Linked DNA regions of Homo sapiens. The protein of the gene in region 1 purifies or fractionates together with the protein of each later gene. This does not show direct contact. Each region holds a gene or a part of one and is shown on either strand. Other genes may lie near its edges.

Region 1 (3,500 bases):
TTAAGAGCCTACTGTGTGGCAGATGATGAAATAAGACTATTTTCCTATGACTTGACTTTCCAACAGGAATTTCTATCGGATTTGTATTTTTTTCTCTAATTTGATAAAAGCCCAAGAATATATTTTATCCTATTTTCAGACTGAGTCAGTGTTGAAATAAATGTAGGTTTTGGTTTGTTAAAGTGCCTAACATAATGTTACAACACAAATGCAAAGCAATTAAAGTTTATAATTGCTTCATGACATACATAGAAAGAATAGTTTTACATATGTGATTCACTAAAATTATCCCTCAGTTTCCCAAAAGTATAGTATATATGTTAGCTGTATATTTTGCAGATGATAGAAATTTGAGTTCACCACATCCATCCCAACCAGCTGCTATTGGGACATTAGGACAAATCAATAGAGGGGAATAACCATAAAAATTTTGCCTGTGAAAGTGTACCTTTATGGTGTTGGTGAAAGCACAATGAACAGGAAATAAGGAAGCTGACATTCTCAGCCACCTATAAAGTAAAGGGCTTCATTAGACCATCCTTGAAAAGTAAGTTCTGGAATTTGATTATCTCTGACTATAAATGATATTCTCATATTTTGTCATTTTGCATTTTCCCTGGCTTTTTATTCTCTTCTCTTCTTTAGTTATTACCTGAGCTGTCTACATTTACAGTGTAAAATGCTGGAATAATTTCTCCAGGAGTTCATATTTGAAAGACCTCATAGGGTTTTATTATATTTCCATGAAAAGAAAAAATCATTCATATCTCTCTTAATATTGCAGATCCTGTCACAAAGCCAGTGGTGCAGATTCATCCTCCCTCTGGGGCTGTGGAGTATGTGGGGAACATGACCCTGACATGCCATGTGGAAGGGGGCACTCGGCTAGCTTACCAATGGCTAAAAAATGGGAGACCTGTCCACACCAGCTCCACCTACTCCTTTTCTCCCCAAAACAATACCCTTCATATTGCTCCAGTAACCAAGGAAGACATTGGGAATTACAGCTGCCTGGTGAGGAACCCTGTCAGTGAAATGGAAAGTGATATCATTATGCCCATCATATATTGTAAGTTTATTTTTTTTTAACTCATGAGTTGTTTTTTGTTGTTTTCTGAGAATATCTCCCAGGATAGTCACAGAGAATATAAGTACCAGATGTCATTTGGCTTTTTACCATTATTGTAGTTCAATAGTTCTAATCACACCTCCTAGGCACTGTCTTGTATGAAATATGTCTGCTAGCACAATCCTATTTCTTAAAGATCAAGTTGAAATACTGGCCAGGGGCCACTCAGGTTGTATTTCGTGATTCAGTCTATTGTGCGACCTCATTTCCAGCGGAAAGCAAGATTCTCAATTTCAAGAACCCAGAACAATGCAGAGGCTGCAATGAAAAAAACTGAAAGAATATCTTGAGAACTTTTTTCCTCTCCAAATATTACCATTCCTGAATTTAACATACTTTATTCTTCTCTTGTAAAATATTTTCTTTACATCAATTCTTTCTTCTAGCTCTTTATCTGTATGTCTTCCCATCCCTACCTGCCTGTCTTTAAACTCTAGCCATAGGTTTAAATGAAAAAGTCCTGGGGAAATTTACTTAAGCAATTATAGGCAAATGCAAATATCATTTTTGACATATACTTTTGTTTTGCTATACAGTTCATATTAATCTGGCAAAATGAAAATAACATCTTTCTTTCAACATGTGCAAGTCTATGCACCAATCTCATTATTATCACAGAATATGCTGTGATACACAGTGTGGAAAATATAAAAATGGGAGAGAAAACCATAATCAAACCTGCAAATGTTAAATATTATGCTTTAGGCTCCTAAGCCTTCTTTCCTTCACGATGTTATTTGAAAGAATGAGAATACCCCAATTTGAGTAAGTTCACACTTTACAGAATCTATCTTTTGCTGACAGACTGAACTTTCTTCTTTACATTATTTTAAACATTACCTATGAAAATCTCATAGAGAAACACCTATCACATGCAAAGACTAACGACAGATAATAGAAAGAAGAACATTTAGACAATTTACAAATGTGGCTTCCATTTACACATTGTAAAGATGAATTATCTACATGGCTTAAGAAAGATTTTGACTCATTAATTGGTAATTGTGAACATTGCATTACTAATTTTTGTCTTCACTATTTTTACTTTCAAATGCAGAATTCTTCACTTGGTCAACATCTCATCTTATTGATATTCATTCATTCACTTACTTATTCATTTATGCACTCATTCATTTATAGATTATTTGATTTTAAAAAATGAAACATCAGGGTCTTGTTTGTGCTAAACAATTACTACCTACCATATAACATGTACAAACACAACCCAGACCCATTAATTTAATAATTTTTCTTGCTATCACTATTTTAGCCCTGTTTTTGTTCTGGTTGGTTGGTTTTGTTGCTTTTGAGTAACAAAAATTAAATAAAATATATACTGTAATCTGAAGATTGGTTGTATATCCTATCTGTGGATGTGGCATCCAAATGTTTACAATCTTTATCATTCCCTGCAAGCTGGGAATATGTGCCTTGGTTGGTGTTATTCACACTTCTCTTTCTTCATCTGGTTGCCTTCTTCTTGCCTCATGACATCATCATCCTTTCCAGAAAGGTTTACCTGCCTCCACTTATCTCACCTCCTCAGTGTCACTAACAGGTTCATTGTGCTCCTTCAGCATCCTAGGCACTCTCATTCCGGGTCCTCACTGCTTTATATTTTCCTTGACTCTTGTGAACACCCCAAACCCAAACCAGAGTTCTGCATTCTTCATCTTTGTATCCATAGGGCAATAGCTGACAGAGATTAAGAAATCAATAAAGTTTCTTGAACTTAACTAAAATGGAACAGATTATCTTTCTTCATATCCCTTTTAGATTCCAGTGTTACTTGACGATGCTGTAAAAAGGCTAAATTCTCATTATAAGGTGACAGCTTCTTCATTATAGTGCTTTGGCACTTTTTTTTCCTGACCTTTAGCAAAATCAAGTATTCTGTTTTCTAAAGGCACTGTTTCTGTGAAGGGTTTTTTCATGAAAGTAGGAACTATTTTTTATTTTGGCAGAAAAAGTATAATAAAATCTATTAAGATTGACTATATACTTATGAGGTTGTGATGTCATAATCTGGTATTGGCCTTGGTGGAATACAATGTCAAGCCAATAACTCAGACAAGTATCTACTTGCAGTTCATGATATGCCTTCAAGCTCCAGTTGTAAATAATAACCCAGTAACCACTGCATTTTGTGTGCAACATATGGCAATGCTGCAGTGGAGAGCTCTAAGTGATAAAAATTAAAGGGGAAAAAAGGTCATTCACAGTAAATACTTACCATCTGCTCCCAAGCAGGGCGGCAAACAGCATCATGATGTAAATTTAGGCACTGTTCCCACACAGCCATAAATTGTTAAAGAGAACAGATGATATGTGATTTTACAAGTCATTTAGTAAACAGCCATCCCCAAGGCAA
Region 2 (3,500 bases), on another chromosome or scaffold:
CTTTTTTCTATAAAGGTTCAGCGAACTATTGCCAAACAGATTCAGATGGTCCGGCAAGTTGGTAAAGGCCGATATGGAGAAGTATGGATGGGCAAATGGCGTGGCGAAAAAGTGGCGGTGAAAGTATTCTTTACCACTGAAGAAGCCAGCTGGTTTCGAGAAACAGAAATCTACCAAACTGTGCTAATGCGCCATGAAAACATACTTGGTGGGTACACACTGATTCAGTCAATTTCATTTTTGACAAGGCTAGTGAGGTACAGGTGGAAGCCTCCATATGTGCTTTGAAAATGTGTGAGTTCAACTATATACATTTGGCTAAAGGAAACCTAGTAGAATACACGGTTTGAATAAAACATAGTCCGGAATGCCAACCAAGATCTTTCTTTACTAACCAGCTGAAGAAACAGCAGTGAGTTTCAAATGGAAAATAATACTAGTTTATTGGACTTACTCCCATAGTAATGAAAACCCAGTCTTTTATAGATAACTTAAGCAGTGATTTAGGGTAACATTAACATATGTGCCTTTTCCCTTTCATAAGCTCAACAGCCCAACATGCAGTTTCATTGTACGTTCTGTGTTTAATGTGTGTTTCCCCCCATCTCCACATTTACACAATAGCAAAGTAATTTAGGTGTGAGCTGGTCAGTCAGGTACATAAGCCGATCTGGCTATCCTGAGTTTTCTTTTCCCTTCACCTCTTGTTTTCCTCCCTTTAATTTGGAGAGCCCATAGCATGTTGCCAAGCAGGCAATTGTATTAGTTTCCTAGGGCTGCTGTATCAATTACCACAAACTGGGTGGCTTCAACCTCCAAAACGTATTCACTCAGTTTTCGAGGCTAGAAGTTTAAAACCAAGGTGTTGGCAGAGCTGTTGTGTCTCTGAATACTCTAGAGGAGGAGCCTTCCTTGCCTCCTCTGGCTACTGGTTGGTGGCCAGGAATTTTTGGTGTTCCTTGGCTTAGTATAGACAACACTCTAGTCTCCATTTCTGTCATCAGGTGGCCTTCTCCCTGGGTGCCTGGGTCCACATTTCCACCTTACAACATCACCAGCCATTGAATTCGGGCCCACGCTAATCCTGTATGAGTCATCTTAACTTGATTACATCTGCAAAGACCCTCTTTCCAAATAAGGTCACGTTTATAGATGACATGGATTTTAGACATGAATTTTGTCGGGGAGCACTGTTCAGCTCAGTACATAGCACTCACTGACCTTTTTCTGGAGGGAAGAGGGTAGGAGAGAAAGGAAAAGAGCAGGACTGTGGGCCTGGCAGTCAACGAGCCAGACTGAAAAGGCAGCTGTGATGAGTCACTGATGGGCAAATGGGAGTTGGCTTAATTAGGAGCTAACTCTTAGTTGAACATTCTTAATTTTATAAAAGTGTCCACTTTTTGCTTTGAAATTGAGAGCCTTTTCTACTAGAGAATCATGTAGGTTGATAATATTCTCCAGGTTATTTGTATAATATGTCATCTTTTTCTTTTCTTTCCTTTTCTTTTCTTTTTTTTTTTTTTGAGACGGAGTCTCATTCTGTCGCTCAGGCTGGAGTGCAGTGGCGCCATCTTGGCTCACTGCAACCTCTGCCGCCAGGTTCAAGTGATTCTCTTGCCTCAGCCTCCAGAGTAGCCGGGACCACAGGCACTTGCCACCATGCCCAACTAATTTTTGTATTTTTAGTAGAGACGGGGTTTCGCCCTGTTGGCCAGGCTGGTCTCGAGCTCCTGACCTCAAGTGATCCTCCTGCCTTGGCCTCCCAAAGTGATACAGGTGTGAGCCACCACACCCAGCATATATGATCTTTTTCTTAATCCTATTCACTTTCATGATTATTAAGATTATTATAAATTTATTGTAGAAGTACAGATATATGTGTAAATGTAGAAATATAATTTTTAGTAACACATTCACGACTTGGTGTCAGGCGAATTAAAGTTTCACTATCTGCACATGATACCTAAGTTTTTCTCAGTATCCAGAATGAGCATTACTTCTCCCTAGCCTATCTCTGATGATAACTAACCTTTTAAACTCATCAACTGGACAGGTTTCATAGCGGCAGACATTAAAGGTACAGGTTCCTGGACTCAGCTCTATTTGATTACTGATTACCATGAAAATGGATCTCTCTATGACTTCCTGAAATGTGCTACACTGGACACCAGAGCCCTGCTTAAATTGGCTTATTCAGCTGCCTGTGGTCTGTGCCACCTGCACACAGAAATTTATGGCACCCAAGGAAAGCCCGCAATTGCTCATCGAGACCTAAAGAGCAAAAACATCCTCATCAAGAAAAATGGGAGTTGCTGCATTGCTGACCTGGGCCTTGCTGTTAAATTCAACAGGTGAGTGGTTCTTTGCCCCACTGTTTTGAAATTATTTTAATTTCCAAAAGATATTTCCCTATTTGTATTCAAGATAATGGAATTCTAAAAATGTGCATATGCTTGTTTTTAGTTACATAAATGTATAGTTGGGGGGGATTTTGTTCTTTTTACAAAAATTGTGTCCTACTTCTCCTATACATAATTCTTGATATATATATATTTTTTTGGTGTTTTTTTTTGTTTGTTTTTTGTTTTTTGTTTTTTGTTTTTTTTAAAGACAGTGTCTCACTCAGTTGCCCAGGCTGGAATATAGTAGTGTGATCTTAGCTCACTGCAACCTCGACCTCATGGGCTCAAGCAATCCTCCCACCTCAGCCTCCTGAGTAGCTGGGACTACAGGCATGCACTGCCACACCTAGCTAATGTTTTTATTTTTTGCGGAGATGGGGTCTCACTGTGTTGCCTAGGCTGGTCTCAAACTCCTAGGCTCAGCTGATCCTCCCAAAGTGCTGGGATTACAGGTGTGTGCCATATAGTCTTAGCCATCCTTCCATTTCAGCTGATGTAAATCTACTTCATTCTTTTTAACAGATGCAGAGTTTTCCATATGTGGAGGTACTGTAGTTTATTCTTAAGACCCAACTGATGAACATTAAAGGTGTCTTCAGTTGATTATGAAAAGGTTTTTTAATGAACATTGTTGTATTTTAACCATATATTATATATTTGATCCTTGTGCACTTGTACAAGCATTTCTTCATGATGGATTCCTAGAGAAGGGCCTGCTGAGGCAGTGAGTTTATACATATTAAACTATGGTATGTTGCATATTATTTCTTTCAGCAGTGTGCCTCAGTTTACACACCCGTAAGCAGTAGAGATAAGGATGTCATTTTTCTGTCACCACTTGATAGTGTCAGTATTTTAAAACAAATGCAAGTGTTAGAAATTACAAATTTTTAGGAAACCTTTGAAACCATTTTAATCTTGTAATTCTAGAATGGAGTGGCTGCTTTACATTTCAGAATTCATTTTAGGCTGTAATATAAAAGTACCAGTCTTTAAAACAACTGTAAGAGACATTTAAATCTGTTACAGTGTTCTGAGTCAGTGTAGTATTTGTTGGCTCAGATATTTATCAGATGCTATAGGAAAATACAACGCATT

Evidence for each region. Proteins that work in one complex are often made in the same cells at the same time.
Region 2: the proteins of HEPACAM2 (region 1) and BMPR1A purify together in Homo sapiens (affinity purification with mass spectrometry; 3 studies listed by BioGRID and IntAct, with this or other methods). This does not show direct contact.

What each region holds. Positions count from the first base shown.
Region 1 is NC_000007.14:93,212,970-93,216,469, reverse strand, and holds part of HEPACAM2 (HEPACAM family member 2 isoform 1 precursor), read left to right. Parts: intron 1-784; coding exon 785-1,069; intron 1,070-3,500. UniProt on the Homo sapiens protein: Required during prometaphase for centrosome maturation.
Region 2 is NC_000010.11:86,917,119-86,920,618, forward strand, and holds part of BMPR1A (bone morphogenetic protein receptor type-1A isoform 3 precursor), read left to right. Parts: intron 1-15; coding exon 16-208; intron 209-2,053; coding exon 2,054-2,351; intron 2,352-3,500. UniProt on the Homo sapiens protein: On ligand binding, forms a receptor complex consisting of two type II and two type I transmembrane serine/threonine kinases.